2 separate regions of the Homo sapiens genome follow, and region 2 is linked to region 1. The links come from fine-mapping of genetic effects on gene expression. A gene starts in region 1. The other region holds a variant in brackets. All regions are shown on one strand. Distances are from middle to middle.

Region 1 (12,513 bases):
AGCAAAAAGCATCTGAGCGGTACACCGCAGCTTCGTACCATGGTTGTACCGAGGTCAGCTAAAGGAGAATGTGATTCATTCAACTCCCTAGTAGAAGGAAGCGACCCCTACATTACCTCCTGCCAATAATACAACTATGGAGGACAGGTACAGGAAGAGGTAATTCTCCAAAGGAAGTCGGTGCAATATAAGGAAGGGGGTAAACTGGGAAGGGTTGGAGGTGGGAGGATGAAGAGAGGTTGGTTCGTGGGTACAAGCATATAGTTATACAGAAGGAAAAAATTCTAATGTTCCATAGCAGAGTAACATAACTATAGTTAGCAACAATGTATTGTATTATCTTAAAATAGCTATACGAGAGGTCTTGAAATGTCCCCAACACATAGGTATGATAAATGCTCAAGGTGATAGAAAGCCCAGATTTGATCATTACACCCTCTATGCATTTAACAAAATATCACATGTATCCCATAAATATGTGCAAATATTGTATATTAATAATAAAAATTTAAAAAATAAAATCATCATGTTAACATAAAAAAGGAAGAGGGTGCAGATGCTGGTCATCTGAAAAGTAATAATCATGTATGTCATGACCCTATTTTTCTCCATACTTGAAATACTGCAACTCCCCTTACTCTTACCTGCCACCACCACCCCATTTTGCCTGATGCATGGTTATTTTTCCACGAAAGGTTAGCTCTGACATTACCTCCTCTAGGAAGTCTTCTCTGACCTTCATAGACTGTGTTAGGGAACCCCTCACCTGCATATCTTTATCCTGTCTCTTACCATATGAATTAAAATTGTTTCTTTGTCCATTTCCACAATTATGTGTTAATATGGCCCCTTGTAACAAGGGGTCCTAACCACCAAGTGTAACGCTGGGAAAAAAATGTAGATGAACTTCAAATAACTCACTTAAAAATAGTGACCTGCCAAAAATGATTTTTTGGACTGCTTTACCAAACCATTTTTAATAATGGAAATTGATGTTTCTCTGGAAACCCCTTATATATTCTTGCATAATTCATGTGTCTTTATGCTGTTTCATGATTTGCATACTGCATTGCTAAGGGGATTCTAAACCCAAATTCCCCTGTATCCCAGTCTCACCTCTAGTTCCTCACTGATGTAATTCAGCACCATGTCATAACTGTTCTCCCAGAGCTGAAGCAAGTAAGTTCACTGAAATCTTGGTTGGTATTCTTAATCTGTAGGAATTTTCTATTGTTTGTCTTTTTATTGGCAAAGGATCTTAGTTTAATCTGTGGAAGATATAAACATATTAAAATATTTCTACAGCCATGTTGTGTGCTTTTGAGAATGACTCACTCATTTTTAAACCATGTTCCTTCCTAAATCACTCTGGCTTTTCTCCAGATCGATTTCTTTAGAGAATATTGCAAATTTATTACAAAAGGGGTTGCTAAGTGAATCATTAATGAGCTTAATAAAGTCATTTAAGAGAGAATTAATCTATGTTGAGTGGGCTTTGTCAGACACAGAGCCATTTTTAGGAGAATAATGCTTGATAGATGGGAAACAAAGGACAATATCAACATAGCAGTAGCGGTAATGGTAGATGTCTCAAAGATGGCATCATAGGAACTGCTGCTATTTTCATCCCCAGAGCCTGCCTCTGCAGATCAAAATGACATTGTAAGCTCATGCTTTGAAGTCGCTACCTGCACTCCAAACACTTAGCAATTATAAATAAAATATTTTAAGAACGAATTTAAAAGAAAGTTTTAAAAAAAGTAAACCACATGCCCATACATACATAAAGAAAAATAAATATCTATGTGCTAGAAACAGACCAGAAATATAACACAGTAGTTACTAAAGCTGTGAGCTTGTGGGCTCTGGAGACACACACAGATAGGCAAGATAACTCCTCTGCAGTATTGGGAGTAAAAGGGCCCTAGGTGGTTGGTGCCTGGATCCAGGCTTATTGCTTGAACCTAAATGCGGTGAGGAACTTCTGCCCTAAAAAAAGGTGCAGCTGTTACCTAAGGTTAGGGCTTATATAAATGTGCATCTAGAAAAGTAGGAACAAGCAGGTATGACCAAGACTTGGGCCAACCTGCCTCCTGATTCAGTGACTAAATCTGTAATATCTGAATATCATCGTAAGATAAAAGTTCAGGGCCACCAACATAAAACCAAGTTGTGGACTGGGGCCCTGTGACCAAGCAGGGAGGGAAAGGTATAGCAAGAAGAGAGAAAGTGTGTGTGATGCCACTTGAAATGTACATCACACAAGTTAAAATTCTAAAACAATTAAAGAAAACTAACATTAAGAAAGGGAGCCAAGAAAATCAATATTTGGGATACATTCATTCCAGAAGAAATGGAAATACAGGCATACCTCGTTTTATTACATTGCTCTTTGCAGACACTTTGTTTTTCACAAATTGAAGGTTTGTGGCAATCCTGCTTCAAGCAAGTCTATCATGCCAGTTTTCCAAAAGCATGTGCTAACTTTATGTCTCTGTCATAGTTTGAAAATTCTCACAATATTTCGAACTTTTCATTGTTATTAATCTGTTATGATGATCTGTGATCAGCAATCTTTGATATTACTATTGTAATTATTTTCAAGTGCCACAAGTCACACACACATACGACAATGAATTTAGTTGGTAAATGTTGTATACGTTCTGACTGCTCCACCAACCGGCCATTTTCCCATCTCTCTCCTCCTCAGGCCTCCCTACTCCTTGACACAGAACAATATTGAAATTAGGCCAATTAATAACTCTATAAAGGCCTCTAAGTGTTCAAGTAAAAGGAAAAGTCCCGCAACTCTCATGTTAAATCAAAAGCCATAAATGATTAAGCTTAGTGAGGAAGGCATGTTGAAAGTTGAAACAGACTGAAAGCTAGGCCAAATGATTAGTCAAATTGTGAATACAAAGGAAAAGTTATTGAAGGAAATTAGAAGTGCTACTCCAGTAAACACACAAATGATAAGAAAGCAAAACAGCCTTATTGCTAATATAGAAAAAGTTTGAGTGTCTGGATAGAAAATCATACCAGCCACAATATTCACTTAAGCCATTCTATGAAGGCTGAGAAGTGAGGAACTGCACAAGAAAACTTTGAAACCAACAGAGGTTGGTTCATGAGGTTTAAGAAAAGAAGCCATCTCCGTAATATAAAAGTGTAAGGTGACGCAGCAAGTGCTGATATAAAAGCTGCAGCAAGTTACCCAGAAGATCTAGCTAAGATCATTGATGAAGGTGGCTACACTGAACAACAGATTTTCAGTGGAGATGAAACAGCCTTCTATTGGAAGAAGATGCTATCTAGGACTTTCCTAGCTGGAGAGGAGAAGTCAATGCCTGGCTTCAAAGCTTCAGAGGACAAGCTGACTTCCTTGTTAGGCACTAACGCAGATGGTGTCTTTAAGTTGAAACCAATGCTCATCTGCCATTTGAAAATCCTAGACCCCTTATGAATTATGATGAATGTACTCTGCCTGTGCTCTGTAAGTGAAACAACAAAGCCTGGGAAACAGCACATCTGTTTATAGTATGGTTTACTGAATATTTTAAGCCCACAGTTGAGACCTGCTTCTCAGAAAAAAAAAAAAAAAGATTTCTTTCAAAATATTAGGGCTTATTGTCAGTGTACTTAGTCATCTAAGAGCTCCGATCAAGATGAACAAGGATATTAATGTTTTCATGCCTGCTAACACAATATCTATTCTGCAACCCATGAATTAAGAAGTAATTTCAACTTTCAAGTCTTACCATTTAAGAAACACATTTTATGAAGCTATAGCTGTCATAGATAGTGATTCCTCTCATAGATGTGAGCAAAGTAAATTGAAAATCTTCTAAAAAAGATTCACTATTCCAGATACCAGTAAGAACATTTGTGATTCATGGGAGGAGGTCAAAATATCAACATTAACAAGATATTGGAATAAGTTGATTCCAACCCTCATGGATGACTTTGAGGGGTTCAGGACTTCAGTGGAGGAAGTAACTGCAGATGTGGTGGAAATAGCAAAACAACTAGAATTAGAAGTGGAGCCTGAAGATGTGACTGAATTGCTACAATCTCATGATCAAACATGAAAGAATGAGGAGTTGCTTCTTCTTACAGATGATCAAATAAGTAGTTTCTTGAGATGGAATCTGCTAGACCTGGTGAAGATGCTGTGAACATTGTTGAAATGACAGCAAAGGATTTAGAGTATTACATAAACTTAGTTGATAAAGCAGTGGGAAAGTTAGAGAATTGACTCCAAGTTTGCAAGAAATTCTACTGTGAGTAAAATGCTATCAAATAGCATCATATGCTACAGAATAATCTTCTGTGAAAGAGTCAATTGATGCTGCAAATTTCATTGTTGTCTTACTTTAAGAAATGGCCACAGACCTCCCAATCTTCAGCAACCAACACCCTAATCAGTCGGCCACCATCAACATCAAAGCAAGACCCTCCACCAGCAAAAAGATTACAACTTGCTGAAGGCTCAGATGATTGTTAGCATTTTTAGCAATTAAGTATTTTTTCATTAAGAGACGTACATTTTTAGACATAACGCTGTTGCATACTTAGACTATAGAATAGTATAAACATGACTTCTATATGCACTGGGAAACCAAAAAATTTGTGCGACTCACTTTATTGTGACATTTGCTTTATTGCATTGTACTGAAAATGAACCCACAGTGTCTCTGAGATATGCCTGTAATAGAATCTGAAAGTGAATTTACTATAGGGATTGTGGCCTGGGCAACGTGGCAAAACCCCATCTCTACTAAAAATACAAAAAAATTAGCCAGGTGTGGTGACATGCACCTGTAGTCCCAGCTACTCAACAGGGTGAGGTGGGAGAATCACTTGAGCCAGGGAAGTTGAGGCTGCAGTGAGCCAAGATTGCATCACTGCACACTGACCTGGGCAACTGGAATAAGACCCTGTCTCAGAAAAATAAAAATAAAATAAAATAGGGATTGTTAGAACCATCAAGGAGAAAAAGAAAGGAGGAATATTCATAAAAATGAATAGTAAATTGTGAACGAAAATAACTAAAAAATGAAACAAGAGCAGGTTGATATTAAAAGGGACAAGTTGGAAATTCTGGTAATAAAAACCATAGTATTTGAGTAAAAAACTCAATAGACAGGATTAACTCTGTCTTGGGTATAACAAGACGGAGAATTAATAAATTAGAAGGTTATATAGAGGAGCTTACCCAGAATGAGCAATAAAGAGTTAAGGAAGGGGAAAAAACATGAAATAGCAATTCAGAGACATGGAAGACATATTGAGAAGATCTAACATATGTCTAATAGGAGTTCAAGAATAAAATAGGGGAAAATATCTGTGAATCAATAGTCAAAGAGATACTATAAACTTTTCAGATGGAAGAAAATGATATATGTTCTCAGAAGAAAAGGTTACATACACCAAGTGCCAAAAAGAATACATAGTAACGAACCTATAACAGGAAACATTTTTCAGTGAAACTACTGAACATTGAAGGCAGAGAGATAATCTTGAAAGCTTCCAAAGCAAAAAGACAGCTGCCCTGCAAGGAAAAGACAATTAGACTAACTCTCATCTACAATGGGTGCCAGAAAACAGCAGAATAATCTTCTCACAGCCTTGAGGAAAACCAATTATCAACCAAGGCTTCTATACCCAGGTAAACTATCATTCACAGCAGAGTAAAATAAATCATTTTCAAGAAAAAAGACTGAGTGTGTTATCACTCACATGCTAAGCCCCAAAATTGAGAAATCATTGATAAATATGATTAACTATTTACTTTAAGTAACTAATGTGTGTTTTTAAAAGGTAAATCTAAAAACCTAGATAGCAATACTATGGGAGTGGCATTCAATGAATAGAAAATGCATGGTAAGTTCCTTAACCCTTTCAGGAATATAGAGATAGTTAATCATTCTACATTTTGTTAGAAATTTTACAATAAATATGCATGAAAATTTAGAGGTAATCTCAGAAAGTAAAAACTATAAAATAGAAGGCAGAGTCTTATAATGAACAGTCTTGAAAAATCTGTAGAACAGGACTTGAGTTGTGGAGATAACGGTTCAGTAAAGGCTGCCCATGGCCTGAAAAAATAAAATTTCCCAATATTTTTTCTTTGCTACTAAAGAAGAACTTAAGCACTAAAGAATCAAATGCCATGAAATTGAATTCAGATACAAATTTAAGTTTTTGCTTTTTAGTAACTAAAGGATTTAAAAGAGAAATTTAACATGGCCTCAACTCCTAAGTCGCTATTGATTATCAGATACAACATTTATGTAAAAAACAACTTTTTTCCTACTTGACCATTGATGAGAAGGTGCCACCTGATTTCCAAAACGTTAACATTTTAAATCGACAAAATGTATTAACTTACTTGACTTTGAGCCAAGTAAAATTGTTCTCAAGTGCCTTGGACTCTTCCAAGGAAGCTTATTAAAATGCAGATCCTGGGGGCACTCTAAGAGACTCGGATTCTGAAGATTGGAAAAGGCTAGAGATTTGCATTTTTAACAGATAGTTCTGACACAGATGATGGGAAGACTGCAAATTTCTGAAATGTTGACTGAGTAAAATCAAAATAGTAATAAAATTAGCCAGGCAGCCCTGAGGGAATCTTAACAGCAAACATAAAAATTGAGCCACCCATTCTGAAAGACATCCAGGTTGGAACTAGGAAAATTCTAATTAATGAGTTAAATACTTGTTGAATCCTAATCTAGAAATCAAAAGACCTGGTTTCTGTTCCAGTTCTGCTGGTAATTAGCTTTGAGACTGTGGGAGAAGTAGGGGGATTATTTTTCCTCTCTGGGCCCAAGTTTCCTCATCTATAAAATAAGGTTAAATTATTCTCTGCCAGCTTTAATGTTCTTTGGCTCTGTGAGTTCACATAATGGGATTGTGGGCCAGTAATTAATCTAATCTTTATAGATTCTTCGAAAGAAGCCCCCCGCCTTATTTCCCCAGGAGATGGCAGTGGGAAAGTACAGCATAGAGAAACCACATTAATGCTGCAGAGAGGCAGGTTCTGAGTGAGACACCAAATTGACCCTCAATATCTGACCTCCACCTTCCCCGTTACAAAACTTATTCTTTAAAAGCTTACCAAACGAATACAGCAAAGGATGGGTAAAGAAAATGCAGTCAATCTCTTCTAAATGCAAATTACCTTGGCAATTATGCAAGCAATTTAAAATAACAACGAGTTGCAAGCAAGAACAACAAAGATTTGATTCCCAAGCTAGAAACTTTCAATTCAGCCGAAAGCTACAAATCCTGGGAAATGCAGGCCCCCAGAACTGCATGGATGGTGGTAACAGAGACACGTAACAAAACAAACTTCAGAGAAAAACTAGACTTACCTAGTTCTTCTAAGAAAAATAGAGTTTTTCTTTAAAAGCGGTCTTTTGTGAGGCTTGGATTCCTCCAGCAATGAATGTAGAGCCAAGCTGTGAACCCAAAGACTGGAGCCCTACACACCTCCCCAGCTTTTACTGTAGAAATCTTTATTTGTTCTGGAATCTCTTTTATCAACACTTCACTTACTCCTACAGTGTGAACTCCAAACAGTCCTGTTTAAGAAACTATCTGCAAATACCAGAATGGCTAATCCTAAAAATAAGGTGTTAATTGGTCTCTTGGTGATTCCAACCCCAAACATAATAAACTAGTATTTCTTTTTAAATGTGGGGGTTTTGCCCCACTGCTAGTCTGAAGTACTGGGTCTTTCTTTTTCTGCTGCTTTTCAGCTTATGTTTTAGGTAAAAATAAAGAAAAAAGAAACTAGTAAGAAATACAGTGAATCTTTGTCTCTCTTCATCTGACAGTAATTATAGGATGTTAAACCCAAAGTAAAGCAGGTCATACTGTATCTTCAGGAGGAGCCAAATTAGGAGGCAAGCTTGTCATTCCTGAAGTCTTCCTTATGGACATAGGAATCCAACAATTTAAAAAAAAATTTTTTTAGAGACAGAATCTATGTCACCTAGGCTGGACTCAAACTCCTGGGCTCAAGGGATACTCCCTCAGCCTCCCAAGTAGCTAGGACAACAGTCAAGCAGCACCACACTGGACTTCTCAGGAATCCACCTTTTTTTTTTTTTTTTTTTTTTTTTGAGACAGAGTTTCACTCTTGTCACCCAGGCTGGAGTGCAGTGGCGTGATCTCAGCTCACTGCAACCTCCGCCTCCCTGGTTCAAGCAATTCCCCTGCCCCAGCCTCCCGAGTAGCTGGGATTACAGGCACAGGCCACCATGTCCAGCTAAATTTTTTGTATTTTTAGTAGAGACGGGGTTTCACCATGTTGGCCAGACTGGTCTCGAACTCCTGACCTCAGTCAATCTGCCCACCTCTGCCTCCCAAAGTGCTGGGAATACAGGCGTGAGCCACCGTGCCCAGCCAGGAATCCACTACTAAATAATAAACACCTCTTAGTGCCTCTGGCCCAAATGCCCAGTTAACTGTGGCCCAGTTTCCCTGGGTGTTGGCTGAGTGTTTAGCTGGGGCAGAGAGCCAATCAACAAATTAGGGGCATTGATCCTTTTTATTATCTTTGTTTTTATCTCTCACTTCTGACCTGCAACAACATCCCATTGTCAGCTCAGATTCTGGAGCGTTTAAACCCTTCCCCTGCCACTGAGAAAGCGTTTTTCTAATGAGGAAGTAGTGTGACTGCAGAACGGTGGTACAGTAGGAGGGATCTCCCCCGGTACCCATCACGCAGGGACAGACTGGCTCTGGGTTCTACTCCTAACTTCTCTCATCATTGGTACTACTCTCCACGACCATCATTTCAGAGAAATTTCTCTGCTTTGGTATATACAGGAATTTGACCTGGGATTTGTGTGAAATATTTACATTGTTTTTCATTTGGGTAGATGGCCTCAGAACAATGCAGTTCCCAATTTCCTTGTGCTGTTCTCCTTTGCTTGCAAGCAGGACAGGAGCAGAGAATTAGAGGAAAGGATTTCACTGAGTGGCGTACAGTCTTTCCTCCAAACTTTCCATGGCAAACACAGTGTTGATCTATACTTGTGAGAACCTCCTGGGGCTGCATGTACTTCCTAATGGGCCTGGCTGCCAAGTTGCCTCTTGTGGGACTGACCTGGAGCCTCTAGAGCAAGGGTCAGGAGACAGGATGCAGGGTTTATGTCACTGTCCGAACTGGGAGCACAGGCTGAGCTGCCCTACAGTGGGAACCGAAGGCTCAGACATTACTTCACATCTCAGCAGAATGATGCAATGATAGCTCTGCTGCAAGTTCTGCTAAACAGCTCAATGTTTGGTTCTCCATCCTCAGTAATATTCTTGTCACTGAGCCAATGGCCTCATCAAAGGAACTAAGCAAGGATCCTCTAACAGCCTTTTTTCAGTTATTGGTAAGAACAGTAATAATTGTGGGTTCCCTATAACAAGCACTGTGCAAAAGCCATAAAAGGGAAAAATGGCCCTGTTTTTCCAGCATCACATCTTCCTAAAGATTAAGTATTTCTATATCAACCATTCAACCATTCATTGAGCAGTCTTCATGAGCATGGCAATATGCTGGGTGATGGGTTTGCTGGTGAATGAGTTCAACTCATCCCTGCCCTCAAGGAACTTACAAGACACCATAGAGGACAGATGGATGCAGAAAAACTAGATTGTTCTAAGTGCCATTGGGGAGACCTAGAGCCACATGGAAGGCAAGTCCATTTCTTTTTTTTTTTTTTTTTTTGAGACAGAGTCTCACTCTGTCACCCATGCTGGAGTGCAGTGGTGCGTTCTCAGCTCACTGCAGCCTCTGCCTCCTGGGTTCAAGCAATTCTCATGGCTTAGCCTCCCGAGTAGCTGGGATTACAGGTGCATGCCACCATACCCTGCTAATTTTTGTATTTTTAGTAGAGACAGGGTTTTCCCACGTTGGCTAGGCTGGTCTTGAACTCCTGACCTCAAGCAATCTGCCCGCCTAGGTCTCCCAAAGTGCTGGAATTACTGGTGTGAGCCACCACACCCAGCCAAAGGCAAGTCCATTTCTAGCTGAGGAGGGGCAATCAGGAGTTGGGCTGTGTTGAGTTATCCTTGTGCATATCTTGTACTCAGAGCTTATTTATCTCTATTAGAACCCAGCAAGCCTGGTGGTGTAAACGTCATCTCTTCTCTATATCAGAATGTAATGGAATAAGTTTTTTATCTAAAACCTCACTTGGTGTAGCCTTTATATTATTTCCACTGTGATAGATGAAAGAAAAAAAGAGCAGTTTAGAATGATATCTAATAATAAACCTTACTGGTCATTCAAGATCTAGTGATATTCATTTGAAATCTGAAAAGGATTTCTGCCAGAGAATCAAGGCCTGAGGTTGTCTTCATTTCTTTACCATAACTCCCCTGCCTCCTTCTATCAGCAACGTACTCTCAGCACACCCCCAATTTCCTCTTCCCACTGCCTAAAACCGCATCTCCCAAAGACGTAACCTGGCAACCCTACCCAAGAGGCCCTTCCCACCACTCACCTGTTCTTTCTCTACAAGAGCAGCCTATCTGTTTCATTCATGAAATATATCACCATTTGTAATGTTTCTTTCTTTTTTTTCTTTTTTTTTTTTTTTTTTGAGATAGAGTCTTGCTCTATTGCCCAGGTTGGAGTGCAATGCCACGGTCTCGGCTCACTGCAACCTCTGCCTCCCAGGTTCAAGCGATTCTCCTGAGTAGCTGAGTAGCTGGAATTACAGGTGCCCGCCACAACGCCCAGCTAATTTTTATATTTTTAGCAGAGACAGGGTTTCACCGTGTTGGCCAGGCTGGTCTTGAAGTCCTGACCTCAGGTAATCCTCCCACCTTGGCCTTCCAAAGTACTGGGATTACAGGCATGAGCCACAGTGCCTGGCTGTAATGTTTATTTTCTTATCGGCAATCTTCCAGAACACACTGTAAGCTCTTTAAGGACAGAAGATAGCAGATGTGAAAAAATTGTTGCATGAATAAATTAGCAAATAAATAAGTAGTAGCACTATTACTTTAGGAAAGTCCTCATAGCGCTCTAGACCATGGTCGCCACACCCGTCAAATAAAAGAACTCACAAGGATCCAGGCTGAATATTCTATGATTCTAGGACTTGGTAAAATCAGCACTAGTGCTTCACCAGAAAATGCGAAGCAACCCTGACTTCAAGGCAGTTTTCCTAGTAGAAAGACATAATAGGTAATGGATGGAAGGATGTTCGGCATTCTTATCCCACTTTATAAAAAATGAAGACACCTAAATACATTTTGTGTATAAAAAGAGGCTCCTCCACACATGCAAGTAGATTGATTCAACCTGTGTCAGCAGCCAGGGGCCCTGGAGTCAGCCCCTCCACTGGAGGACACTAGCAAGAAGATATTTGCAAACTACTTTTTCTGATGGAGTCAAGAGAACCTCTGGTCTAACCCATGAGCTTGCATTAGTGCCTCAGCTCAGCCTAACTCCAGCACCATCTTATAGATCCTGAAAGTGGGTGGTCTGGAGCTCCGCTTCTAAACTTCCTCAGATTCAAGCAAATTCCACATTCATTTGAAAGACAGAGGCCAGAGGGATTGGCTGGATCAGGGAGGTTGGTAAATACAGTGCCTTTTTTTTTTTTCTTTTATCAACAGGAAATACAAGCTCCAGTTCTGGATGAAAGGGAAAAAAAAATCATTGAAAGTAATTTATATCTGAAACTGTTTAGTAGTGTCATCCTAATTTACAACAGAACCAATTCCAAATTAAAAAAAAAAAAGTCTTTTTCTGTTTCCTGTTAGCAAAGAACATGGGGTTATTTAAAAAAAAAAAAATCCACTGGATTTTCCCAAGTGTTGATAAGGTCTGGAATCCTGCAGATCTCATGAGAAGAATTCAAAACTCCTAATTAAAAGTTTTGTTCTCACAGTCAAATCTTGAAACTGTGCCGTTTGGCTTCACTTCTCTATGGTTAATTCATTTTGATCTTCTTCCAAAAGATAAATTGACAATGTGGGATGAACCATTATCAGAAGCTTATTAATTATTATTATTTCTGGTTTTGAAAGGAGAAGAATTTTGCTGTAACATACCTCACCTCATACGGAACCCAGGGCTATGAGTGAATACATGTTGAATGGAATCTTTCCTGGATTAGTGACAATTGTTCATCTCTGGGGCTAGCCAGGTAGGGAGAAATTGTTTATTAAATAGATTACACAATCTATTGGGCTCAGGTTGAATATAGTGACAGGAAACTGAAAATAGTCCTGACATTGGATGACTTGGTGTTTTTCGTAATTTTAAACAGATAATTCAGATGCTGGTGTTTTGGAAGGCTGCCCAAGATCTGCTCTCCATATAAGCAAACTATAAAATGCAAACTAGGGCTATGACAGCCACCTACCTCTTTCCCTGAGGCAGACTTCATACTTCCTGAACCAAAATACTTGTCTGACCACAATACTGAATATTTGGAATTGGGACTGTCCCAGAAATCTGGGACATATATGGTAAGGACCTGAAGCCTGTAGTCA
Region 2 (12,513 bases), 140 kb before region 1:
AATCATGCTTTATTTTGGGGGCTTGGAAAGGAAGCTGAAACTAATGAGCCTCTACCCAGCTCCTGAATAAATTAGACTTTTTTTAGTGAGAAAGGAGAGTGGGCAGGAAGGGGAATGAGTGTTGGATGACAATAGACAGTGTCTGCTGCACTCCCCTACTTTGGATATTTGGTTGCTCTTTATTGTTCAATACCTGATTCCCTTGAACTGTGGGAAGGCACTGTGCTAACAAGTGGGAATAAAGACAAAAACCATAATCTCTATATGGTTATAAATTGCTGAAAGGCTTCATTTGAGAGAACCAATTGCATACCCAATTTTAAACAAAGAGGTGAAAGAACTTAAGTGACATATGGCTGAGTTGGCAAATGGCTGTCAACAGAATCCAAGAGGCCTTACCTTGGCTTTGAGTACACAATAGGTGAGACAAAACAAGCCCCAAGGTACTCAGACTGTAAAATGACAGAAAGGACAAGCCTTGTGTATGTGCTTAAAAATAGAGTGTACATTCAGTATTCTCATAGCATTAAGCATACAGAGTTGGTTTATACCCACAAGTAATCACAGTATAATCTAAATTTCTCCAGGCCTTACCTGCTGCTGGGTATAGATAGAATCATGCAAAAGTAATGACTCAAACTTCCCTGGCACATGTCTGTGCCAGCCCCTGCTTTGTGTTTCTGGGAGTCCCCATGAAGTCCACAAAAGTACACACAAACTGTCCCAAGCCCACTGGGGTTGCCCCTGCTCTGGCTTGACCCAGAGCTACATAATGGCTTGGATCAGAGCTGGAGGAGCAACTCCCTCTCCTTCACGTACCCACTGTCACAAGGGTCTGAAAACAGTGCAGCTAGCACCTCCTCTCTCCCTAGGACCCAAACATGTGGCCACAGAGCTGGGCTGGGCACAGATTCAAGTGACAGTGACTGTGATCAACTCAGTATCTCTTCTCTTCCTCAAATATCACAGCTTGCCGTTGCATCAAATCATCTTGTCTGGCTCTTTTTCCCTTAGGACAACTGACTAATCACCTCTGTCCTAGGAACTTATTCTTAGGAAGTAGCCAGACACATGGCCAAAAATATGCATTAAAGAGTCAATTACAGAGCTCTTAATAATGGTTAAGAAAAAAAAATAACCTTAATTTTATCAGTAGGAGACTGGTTAAATGAATTACAGCATATTCATTTTGAAAAATAATAAGCATTCATTTAAAATGATGAGGTACATCTACATTTACTGACGTGGAAAGATATGATATATTGTTGAACTGGGAAGAAAGTATGATCTCATTTTTATAAAAATATAAGTAAACACATGCTCACATGAATGTATGTGCATTAATGTGTGCACACACACAAAGAAAAATAGAAGTTATCTTTGGACAACAAGATAAGGGCATTTTTGCCGTTTTCTTTATATCTTTCTGAAAAATAGGAATGTTTTTACAAGAAGTATGAATTGCTTTCATAATCATAAAAAGATAAAGCCATATCTATTTTGAAATATAATTATTTTAATAAAATAGGCTTTAGTAATTGATCCATTCTTTAGGGTGAAATTGTGGAGGGGTATAAAATCTCCATTTAGCAATATCTTTTAATAGAAGGAAGGTCTAATCATTTACTGGAAATTCCTGGGTAATGTGCAGGAAAACCAACCTTGACAGAAAGATGATTGGTACTGGACAGCTCCTGAAAAATACAGTGAGGCTGGGGAGAAGGGCAGTGCCCCAACAGCGCTATTCCTGGAAGCCCAAGAAATCACAATTTCTGGGAAAAAAAAAAAAAAAAAGTATGCAGAGCAAAGCAAACACATGGGTTGCTGTATTTTGTGGTTGCCTCTTTTTCGCCTTGGCTCATTTTTTCTATTGGTTATTTTTTTCTAACTGATTAGTAAAAGCTCAAAGCTTAACAACACCTGGCATTTACATCACATTTTTTCCCTCTATTTGTTTGCCTTTCAAGATTTTTGTGAAATTTTATGACACATAGAAGTTCTCATTGTTTGTGTGATAAAGTATAACAGTCATCTTTTTTTTTTAATGATTCTTGGCTTTGGTATCTTGCTTGGAAACGCTTTTTCTACCCCCCAAAACACCAAAATTATTCACTCATATTTTATTTAACCTATACATTTTTATCTTTTATAATTGTTAAAAGGAAAATTACAGATAAATTAAATTTAACAGAGTTTAACTGAGCAAAGAACGGTTTGCAAATAGGCACCTCCCCCACCACCAGAATAGACTCAGAGACACTCCAGCGCTGCATGTGATCAAAGAGAATTTACAGACAGAAAAAAAAAGTGATGCTAGAAACAGCCTGATTGGTTACAGCTCTGTGTTTGCCTTATTTGAACCTGGTTTGAACTATCAGCTGCCTTTGGTTGGCTAAAGCTTGGCGATTTGTATGAGTAGGTTGCAGTCTGTTTACACATCCAGCTGGGTTTCAGTTCACTATATATGGAGGAAACTTTAGACCAAAAGTCTCATATGTAAGGAGACAGCTTTGGGCTAAACTTAATTTAACATAATTATTAAATTGATCGAATTTGTGTGTGTGTGTGTCATGTATGAGGTAGTGATATAAATGGTTTGTACCAATTGGTTGATCATTCTTCCCAACACCATTTATAGATTTATCCAGTCTTTTTTTTACTGATTAGAAATAATATTTTTTTTTTTTTTTTTTTTTGAGACGGAGTCTCGCTCTTTCAACCCAGGCGGGGCTGCAGCGGCGCTATCACTGCTCACTGCAAGCTCCGCCTCCCGGGTTCACGCCATTCTCCTGCCTCAGGCTCCTGAGTAGCTGGGATTACAGGCGCCCGCCACCGCGCCCAGCTAGTTTTTTGTATTTTTAGTAGAGACGGGGTTTCACCGTGTTAGCCAAGATGGTCTCGATCTCCTGACCTCGTGATCCACCCGCCTCGGCCTTCCAAAGTGCTGGGATTACAGGCGTAAGCCACCGCGCCCGGCCTTATTGTATACCAAAACAACACAAATACACAAGGGTACATACATACATAGCCTTGGGTATGTTCTGGACTTAAATTGTTGAGTTCCATTAGCCCACCTGCCTATTCCTGAGCTGATACTATATACATTACAATCATTATGAATTTAAGATGGTTTTAATTTTCTGATAAGGCAAAAAGACACCCTCATTATTATTCTTTTCAAAAATATATTAGCTATTCTTAAATGATCATTCTTCTGAATAATTTAGAATTATGTGGTCAAATTCCAAATAAAATGCCATTAAGATTTTTATTGGGATGGCATTAAATTATAGATTAATCTATAGAAAAAAACTTAATATTTTCAATAGGAAGCCTTCTCTTTAGTCTCACATTAGGATTTTGTAAGTTTCTTCCTATTCTTCCTTGATGTTTCTTGGTAGGTTTGTGAAAAGTTGATTTTCTCTGGCCCTTCTCACCCCTTGTCTGGTCACATGCAGTGTGTTGGAATCTCTTTATCAGATTTACAGTTGTAGGACAGGTTTGTATATCTATAGCTCTCAGGCAAAGTTTCACTTCCCACAGACTTTCCTTCAGTTTTCTTGAGGTGGTACCTTCCCCTGACCTCCACTATCTGGTTTCTGGTTCCAGAGAAACAATTTAATCATTCTCATTTCCAGCATGCTCTGCTTCCTGGGAGTTTATTTATTTCCTGCCACAATGCTTACATCATAAAGACTACAACTCATTGTACTGGTTTGTTTATTTTTTTTTTTTCTGCATAACAAATGACCACAGACTTAGCAACTTAAAACAACACACATTTATTATCTCACAGTTTCTGCGGGGCAGGAGTCTGAAGATGGCCTAGCTTGGTCCTCTGCTCGGAGTCTCACAAGGGTGCTATCAAGATGTTGGCTGGCTGCATTTCTTTCTGGGTCTTGAGATCCTCTTCAAAGCTCAGGGGGTTGCTGGCAGAATTCAGTTTCTTGCAGCTGTAGAATGCAGGTCCCTGCTTTCTTGCTGGCTGTCAGCCAGGGCTGCTCTCGGCATCTACAGGCCCCCTCTGTTCCTTGCATGTGGCCCTCTCCCAGGTCCACTCATGATATGTCAGCCTACTTCTTCAAGGCCAGCAAAAGAATCTCTTGTTAGGGCCCACTAGGACAATTCTTAGATAATGTAACATAATCACAGGAGTGACATCCATCACCTTCACGGTACTCAACTGGCTAGAAGCCAGTCACAATTTCCACTCATTCTCAAGGGGAAGGGATTATTCAAGGGTGTATCCACCCCACTCAGGCCTTGGACCATTGTCAGCACACCACTACTTCCTGATCACCTTTTTTCTGAGATTTGGGGTCTTGGCCTAAATATGACAGGGTGGCAGCCTGAGTGGGGACAAGAGGCAGAGGGCAGGTGGCTGTGGGAGAAACGTATAGAGAGGCACTCTGCTCTCCTCACAGAACTGGACAGTTTTCTGTTTGATATAGGCACCAGGTCTTCAAATGGGGGAGGCAAAGTAGAGGTATGACATATGAGGAAAGCTACACCGGTTATTCTCGGTTCTCTCCATCTGGCTTAGAATTATTGTCAGTTTCTTCAAAATGCTGGAATTTGGTTGTTAGTCATTTTTCAGTGTTGTACATTTTATCTTTTTTAAAAATCTCTTTGTATATATGTTAGTGAGAAGTTAGGGAAAATGGCTAGCTTCCTGATGCTTTGAACCAGAGTTTCAACCAAGCCAGTTTCTGGCAGGCTTCTGCTTCTGTCTTCTTGAGATGGCACCATGCCTTGGTTTCTAGTTCTTTCGAAGCAAGTGCAAAATTGAGAACAACACATTTTATAAGAACTTTCTTGGTTCTGTTGTGCTACCTCAGGGAAACCAAAGAGATAGCTAATCTATACCTTGCTCAGGAAGCTGTGGGTATCAGAAATGTATCTGCAGTACTGGTAGTCATTTCATCCTCCCAATAACCTAGTGAAGTACATATTATTATCTCACTTGATGGAAGTGGAAACAGAGGCTTTGACTAAACAAATAACTTTCCCGTTTTCGCACAACTCAAATCACAGGTTGCCTAACTCCATAGTTCTTTCTATCACATTATACTTTCAGGGTGGGGGAATGTCTTCTGAAATATTGAGAGGCATTTAATAATAATCAACAAGTTTCTTCCAATCTTCATTCAGCCTACAACCTCACAACCCTAATGTATATCTTTCTGAAATAGGGAGTTTTTTCACAGTAAAAATGGACAGCATTCTTTTTCCTGTCATTACTCCATACCGCCTTTGCCCCAC[A/G]AATTTTACAACCTGAAAAACAAAGCAAGCAAAGTCAATTATTGAGAGATCTGGTAAGCACACAGAGCGGCTCAAACTCAAGGTTTTTATTCAGCCGCACTCAAATACCTTGTCTCATGTATCCCAGAAGCAAGCCACACTAAGCAGGGGTATAAGCCAGTCAGAGGGAAACTCCCTTCTCTCTTTTGGGAAGCTCTGACAAAAGTCTCCAGGGGGCACTGCAACCAGCTGGGGGAAGTCTTAGTCTGTTTGGGCTACTGCAACAAAGTGCCATAGACTGGGTGGCTTAGAAACAACAAACATCTATTTCTCAGTTATGGAGGCTGGAAAGTCCGAGATCAAGGCTTGGGCAGATTTAGTGTCTGGTGAGGACCTGTTTGCTGGCTCATACATGACCTCTTCCAGCTGTGTCCTAATATGATGGAAGGAACAAAGACGCTCCCTTGGGCCTACTTCATAAGGCCAGGCCTTGGTGACCTAATCACCTCCCACAAGGCCCCACCTCCTCACAGGGGGTTAGGATTTCAACATGTGAATTTTGAAAGGACACAAACGTTCAGACCATAGCAGGGGAGGACACAGGTGCAACAGTCAGAGTTCCTGGGTGCTAGAGTCAGAGATCCTGAGGCTGGGTGCCTGCCAGCTGCCTCCAGGGAAAGGTCATGTGATGGGTGGTGGGACTCTAACAGACACACACCAGGAGTAAATTCCTAAACAGCAGGTGATACAGAAACTGAGGGAGATGTCTTGCAAAACGAGACCACACAGCATGCCAGCAGGTGGAGGTATAGACCCCCATGTCTCCCAGTCCCCATGAAAATATACAGCTGCTGCTGACCACAAACCCATCCCCCCAGCTGCCCGAGCTGCATACCTGCCTGCTAACTAGGTGCAAGTAACTACTGAAACCAACCTCAGCACATTCCTAAGTGTTTATAGGTCATAAAAGGTCTATTTCTCATGCTTAGTACCCTCATTAGGCCCAAGTTTTAGGCCTACCTTGGGTCCATTCCCGCAGCAATCTTGGGCAAGTCATAAGATCTTGCCCATTATCAGTTTCCTGTAATACAGTAGTTCTCAAAATGTGGTCCCCCAGCCGGCAACATCAGTACCTTATGAGAACTTCTTAGAAGTGCAAATTCTTGGACTCCACCCCAGACCTACTGAATCAGAAACTCTGGGTATGGAACAGAAGGATCTGTTTTGACAAGTCCTCCAGGTCATTCCGATGCATGTTAATGTGGGAACCACCGCTCCCTCCAATACCTCATAGAATTGTGAGAATTAAATAAGATAATACATTCTGTTCTGCTACCGTTTCCGTGTATGAATTAGCCCATCAGAGATTGATCACAGAGAAATGACATCAGTATAATGTGAAAATTGCACTGGTTTCCATAATTTCGTAGGTAATTTTTACTAACCAAGAAGTCCTGAGATAGCAGGAGTAGAACCATAACGTTCAATGGGAAGGAAAAGGCTTGAGGTTTGGCTGCTGTACCAGCAGCAGAAATCTTTTTGCTGTATTCCAGGAAATGTTTAAATGAGTACCTGCCACCAGGGCTACCTCCTCAGGTAGGTGCACCTCCAGCCTTGTGAGCTCTCAGCTTGTGGAAGGTTGTCTGGCTTCCTGTGTGCACCTTAACAACAGCCCTGTGACTCCAAGCTACATTTCCATCGCCCTGTCCCAGCCCCTGCCAGTGTCAGTCTAATTAAAATGTTACCAGCTTTTCATCTTTATTGCTTTTGTGCATTTTAATACCCGTGTGGCAGCCTCTAGCCCCTCAGCTGCTGCCAAGGTGGTCCAAATGATCTCCCCAGGTAGTAGTGATTGCTTTCCTTAATCACAGTTGCATGGGATTTGAATGGTCTGCCTTGGCCCAACTTTTCCCATAAGTCCTATTATTTTTTATGCCAAGTTTTGCAGACAGCAACATTTTCTAGAAAGTGTAATTTTAGGTTACAGCAGAAATGCCTGTATATGTAAATTACCTGGCACATAGTAAGGGCTCAGTCATTATTATTATTAGTTCATGTCTACCATACCTTGTCCTTGAAATGCTGACAAAAAAAAAAAAAAATGAGCCAAGAAAACCCTACAGTGACAATTCCAGTACAAGAGCAAAGGAACACAACTTCATATAGCAGGTTTTGATAATGAAAGGCAGAAGTTCTTATTCTCTTTTGCCAATATTTTTAATGACAGTCATTTGAAGCAATTCCTCCTGTGTTTTTTGTTTTTTCCCAGTTTGAGTAGCTTTTTTTTTTGACATGGGGATATTTTATCTACTCCTATGTACTTAAATCTTTAATGACATTCCATCTCTTTCTTTTTGACTTTAGAAAATCAGACACTTATTCTTAGAAATAGCCAGGTGGAGAGTAATTATCTTGGCCATAATTCTCTGATGTTTACAGAATATGGCACTCAGACTTGAAATCTCTGATGGCCTTTGCTGGAAGGGATTTCAGCCTCCTCGTCCGACATGAATGGGAATTGAGGTCTGGCTCAAGGTCAGACAGCAGAATAGTCTGGCCATGAAAGCCAGCCAGGTGTCCTGGCTTCTAATTCAGTATTCCAGCTCTTAATGTTTACTCTCTAGTTATGTTCTGCTTCATGAGGTCACTTCTAAATTGTTTCCTCAAACCTGGGGTCACAGACCAGTGGTCTGTAGGTCAAATTCAGCCCACAGACATGTTTTATTTGCCCGTGTCGTATATCTTAACAATTGAGAAATTTCACATTTAAAAAAATGTCTTGCTTCACTTGAAAATTCAGAACATCTGGCACCTCTGAGCCACTATTCCCACACGGCAACAATCAGCCCAGCTGAAGAGCACCTTCCCCTTTCAACCGGGATGAGCTCACTCAAAACTGCCGGGGTCCCCCCAACTCCCCATTGCTTGACGTGCATGCACACACCTTTCTGTATTAGTTTGCTAGGGCTGCTGTAGCCAAGCACCACAGATTCTGTGGCTTCAACAGCTGAAATTTATTTCCTCACAATTCTGGCGGCTAGAAGTCCAAGATCAAGGTGTCGCCAGGGTTGATTTCATTCTGAGGCCTCTCTCCTTGGCTTATAGATGGCCCTCTTCTCCCCGTGTCTTCATATGGTCTTCCCTCTGTGCGTGCCTGCATCCAAATTCCCTCTTCTTATAAGGATATCAGTTATACAGACTGGGGCCTACCCAAAGAATCTCCATTAACATAATTACCTCTTTCAAGACCCTATCTCCAAATGCAGTCATATTCTGAGGTACTAGGTTTAGGACTTTAACATGTGAATTTGGAGGAGACACACTCAGCCCATGACACAGTCATTCCTCCTTTAGATTACCTGCTTGATCCCAAAGGCATTTGAATCTGCAACTGTGACAAACAGCAAACCTTGGTTTGTTCTTGAACAACTCAAACCTTCATGTCTTCTTTCATCAATTAAACAGCTCCTCTATGAAGTACCTTAATAATGAAACCCGAAGTACACTTAGAAGAGACATAAAATTTTAAAGACAGGAAGAACCTCAGAGACTATCTCCTCCAGGGGTTTTCAAACCATTTTAAGTCATGGAAACTTCTAACAAAAGTTAACAAGGAATTGATAAGTAAAATAGCTAAACTCCACTCCTGTTTGCCAAAATAGCTACTAAGGGAGCTCCAGAAGACACTGGGCCTCCCTATATAAAAATCATTTGAAAACCACTGATCTAATCAAATTATTTGGTTTATATCTGAGGAACCTAAGGGCCTTCCACACAGCCATGGCCACACAGAGCTGGGAGCAGAACCAAATCCTCTGTCTCCTGCTTCCTATGGCTCCGGGTCTCTATATGGTTCCAACCAGGATCTGCACAAGGTTGATTGAATAATACTTTTAGGTTGGTGTAAAAGTAATTGTAGTTTTTGACACTACTTTTAACAGCTAAAAGCACAATTACTTTTGCATCAACCAATATCATCAGGATAGGAAAATCCTGACTTTTTGTTGGTGAGAGGAACAAGCTGGAGCTGAAGTCTAGGAGTCAGGAGGCCCAGGTTCTAACTGTGTGTTGTCCATTCTAGCTGTATAACACTGAGGACAAAGGATTTTACCCCTCTGTTCCTCTTCATATTCAGCACACAAAGGGTTTGACTCTATGAATTCTAATATATCTTCCAATATTAAAATACTAGGATCCTGGAATGTTACCCTTATAGTAATTATGCTCTCCTTTACTTATGCTCTATTGATGTAAAAGGACCATGATAACTTTTGCCCCAAGAGGCATGTATACCAGCAATGGGCAGGCTCAGCCTCCCCACACACAGAGATCCCCCGGGCCCTGCCTGCTGACAACCAAGGCCACCTAAACATCCATACTCCGGCTTGTTATCATAGAAAAGAAAAAAGAGAAAAATTAAAAAGACCTTCCCCAGAAGAGGTAAAGCCATGTGGCCCACTCTTTGGTCAGTAATATAAACCAAACATTTTGCACCACAGGGAAAGTGGAAGCAAAAGAGTAGGAAGAATTGCTATGCTGTTTGGGAACTGTAATTACATGACTCCAAAGTGGAAATGGCAGGAATTTGTTCTGCAACCAACATTCTAGTAACAACAAGCATATTACTTCATGAGGTTGCCTGCCATGGAGCATACTAATTTTCACAAGTAATTAGCATCTCATTTTGAGCCAAAATCTATGACCCTCAAACATCCAAACTTTGGTTACCACCAACACCCATGTCCTCTTCCTCTTCATGGACACACAGCTGGACTACCTTTTCCAGGCTCTCTTGCAGTTGGCTGGAGCCAGAGAACTGCGTCCTCACCAGTGGAATGTAGGCCAGGTGTTACGCGTCTCACCAGGCTTGGTCCATAATATCCTCCCACATGTGATCCTTGCTCTTTCCTCATATGCCAGTTGAATGCAAGGGACTTTGGAGGCAGGGAGGAGGGCAAGGCCCAAGATGAGGAAACCTAGATCCCTGAATGACTGTGTGGAACAGAGACACACCCCCACCCCCATCCTCCCTGTGATGTGCACAAGAAATAAATGTTTATTTTGTTTAGTGATTGAAATTTGAGAGGCATCAGTTTCAGCAACTAGCATTATTAACTTTAACGCGTGTATCTTTTGAAGTAAGACAAGCCTACTACTTCTTGTCTCACTTACTAGACTTGATATATTTTAAGATAGCTCTCATCTAAAGGTGATAAGAAGACAATCTCTTGACTCTCTTCTCCCTTAGTACTTCTCCTCTTTTGTCCTTCCCCAATTCAAGAAATTCCCCAATGTAAAATCCTGAGCCCATTGTATCAGGGAAGGAGTTTGCATGGGAGGAACACTGAGAGTCTCTTTCTCCCTAACATTTATTAAAAACCTAAGCCCTTGGTATTAATAGATCAGAGAGAATTCCCAACAAAATCAGAATATTTGAGACAACTGTCATCAGTGACAGAAGTGAGACTGAGGGGACTAGAGTTTCTCCGCCCCCATGGTGAAAAAATATTCCATAGTCCCAACAGTCTTTCTCAACCAAACTGCCACAGTAGAATTAAGCCTTAATGCCCATTGTATCAAATGAATTAACTTCTATAATAGAGTGATACTTATTTATCATCCTTGGGAGAATTTTTAAAAAATATTTCTGAGTTACATGGTTTAGATGAGAAAGGCTGGCTGGAGGAAAGGAGAAAGGAAAAAAGAAAGTGAAAGCATCAAAGAATCCTGGACAGCAAAGGGAAAGGTGCCAGGGAGCCAGCAGAATGCCAAGGCCATGCGGCGAAGGAACTTGGCCTTGTTGAGCTGGTAGAGCCCAGGGAGGTAGCAAGACCCAGGGGAGGGACCTTCTTCTGACCAAGGAGGTGCATCTTAGGCACTTTCTTCTGGCCCAGGAGGCTTTGAATCAGTGACAGCACCATTCTGGAAGGAGCAAGGCTGGCTGAAAGGAGATCCCTCCAAGCTGTAACCTGCAGGACCAACTATTAAGAATTCTCTGGGTCAGGGAACATCTTCATGAATACCTTTGAATGAAACTCAGGACTTCCTAAAATTTCCATGTCTTTTTCTTTCACCTGTCAGGCAGGGTATTCAGAAGGCCTAAAATGATTAGGCCAGATACTGTTCAGTCAATGTTTTCCAACTGTAACATAATTAAGAATATGAGCTGTTTTCTCTCCATGTTGACAAATAACTCCAAGATACCAGCACAGTCCTTCTTCCAGTGCAAACTCAGTCTTTGGACCTCCTGGAAGACTTCCCCAGACCACCACTGTACTGACAGGCTGTGTTTGTTCCTTTATTTGACATTTGGCCAGGGGGATGTCCTTCCTTAATGAAATCAGAGTCTGGAACTTTACCCAAATATTAGGTTGGTGTAAAAGTAATTGCAGTTTTTGCCATTGCTTTCAATGGCAATGTAGCAATTCTGTAATAATAGGTCATGAAAAGAGGAGGCTCACCACAGGGGCTCCTGAGAAGACATTGATTACCAAGGGGAGGGCTGGCAAGCATATTGTTGGGAGGAAATATTTAGTGAGCAGGTGAAAAATAATGAATTAAAAATTTTAAACTTTTCTTAGCAAAAGAAGATATTTAATAAGTATAAAGTGTTAAAGCTGAGAATTAAAGTAATATTCACTAAAGAGTACACAGCAAACATAAAAAATATAATTACATCTATAACTTGAGAAATATTCATGTGTTATTTTAACCTGGGGCTTTGCATTTTAAGTGAGAGGAAAGAAAACAGATCAACCCAAATTACTGAAGGCCCTGGAAGGAAGATTAAAGGAATTGAGATGGCTTTATTTTGGTGATAAGAAAGCCAAGGGAGGGCTAAATAGCTGTTTTCAAATATTTTAAAGGTTAGTCCCAAGATACAGGCCTGCTGAGCTCAGCCCCTGGCCTTTCCCAATTCAGAGCCCTTGAACTCAGCAGCTAACAAAGAACTGCTGTCTTAAGTGGAAAGTAGAGTCAGAAGCTCTCCCATCCTCCCCAAGAGCTTCCTTCTGGGCTTTGGCTCTCCAGATGGGTTACTCACACTCCTATCCCTCCACCTCATCCATTAAGTTAGAAAATTGCTGACTCCCCAAACCATTCTCCCCAACCAGTCCCTGGGGCCTTACTGTGTCTAACACCCCACTAAGCTGCTCCTCAGTCCTCCTGCCTCTGCCTTACTGTGGCTTCTCGTAACTTCTTTCTTATAGCTTTTCAATAGCCATCTAATGGACCTCCCTGACTCAGCTTCCCCATCCTCCCACAACAGTCCAT

Direction of the effects. Alleles are on the strand shown, and positions count from the first base shown. SD is a standard deviation of normalised expression in the study named.
For the expression in prefrontal cortex of the gene that starts at base 7,480 in region 1, allele A in region 2 goes with a lower level than allele G (moderate effect, 0.43 SD a copy in GTEx).

What was found. PIP is the estimated chance that this variant, and not a neighbour inherited with it, causes the effect.
Region 2: its variant is fine-mapped to the expression of LINC01331 in prefrontal cortex (GTEx, PIP above 0.99). The same link has a PIP of 0.9 or more in cerebral cortex.

What each region holds. Positions count from the first base shown.
Region 1 is chr5:74,529,294-74,541,806 of GRCh38, forward strand. It overlaps LINC01331 (long intergenic non-protein coding RNA 1331), which reads right to left and starts at 7,480. Exons shown (of 4, transcript NR_197436.1): 1 at 7,377-7,480; 2 at 1,117-1,268.
Region 2 is chr5:74,389,262-74,401,774 of GRCh38, forward strand. All of the region lies in intron 2 of LINC01331 (long intergenic non-protein coding RNA 1331), which reads right to left. Among named protein-coding and RNA genes, the nearest start is that of LINC01333, 74 kb to the left of the region's middle. The variant A/G (reference allele first, on the strand shown) is at 5,263.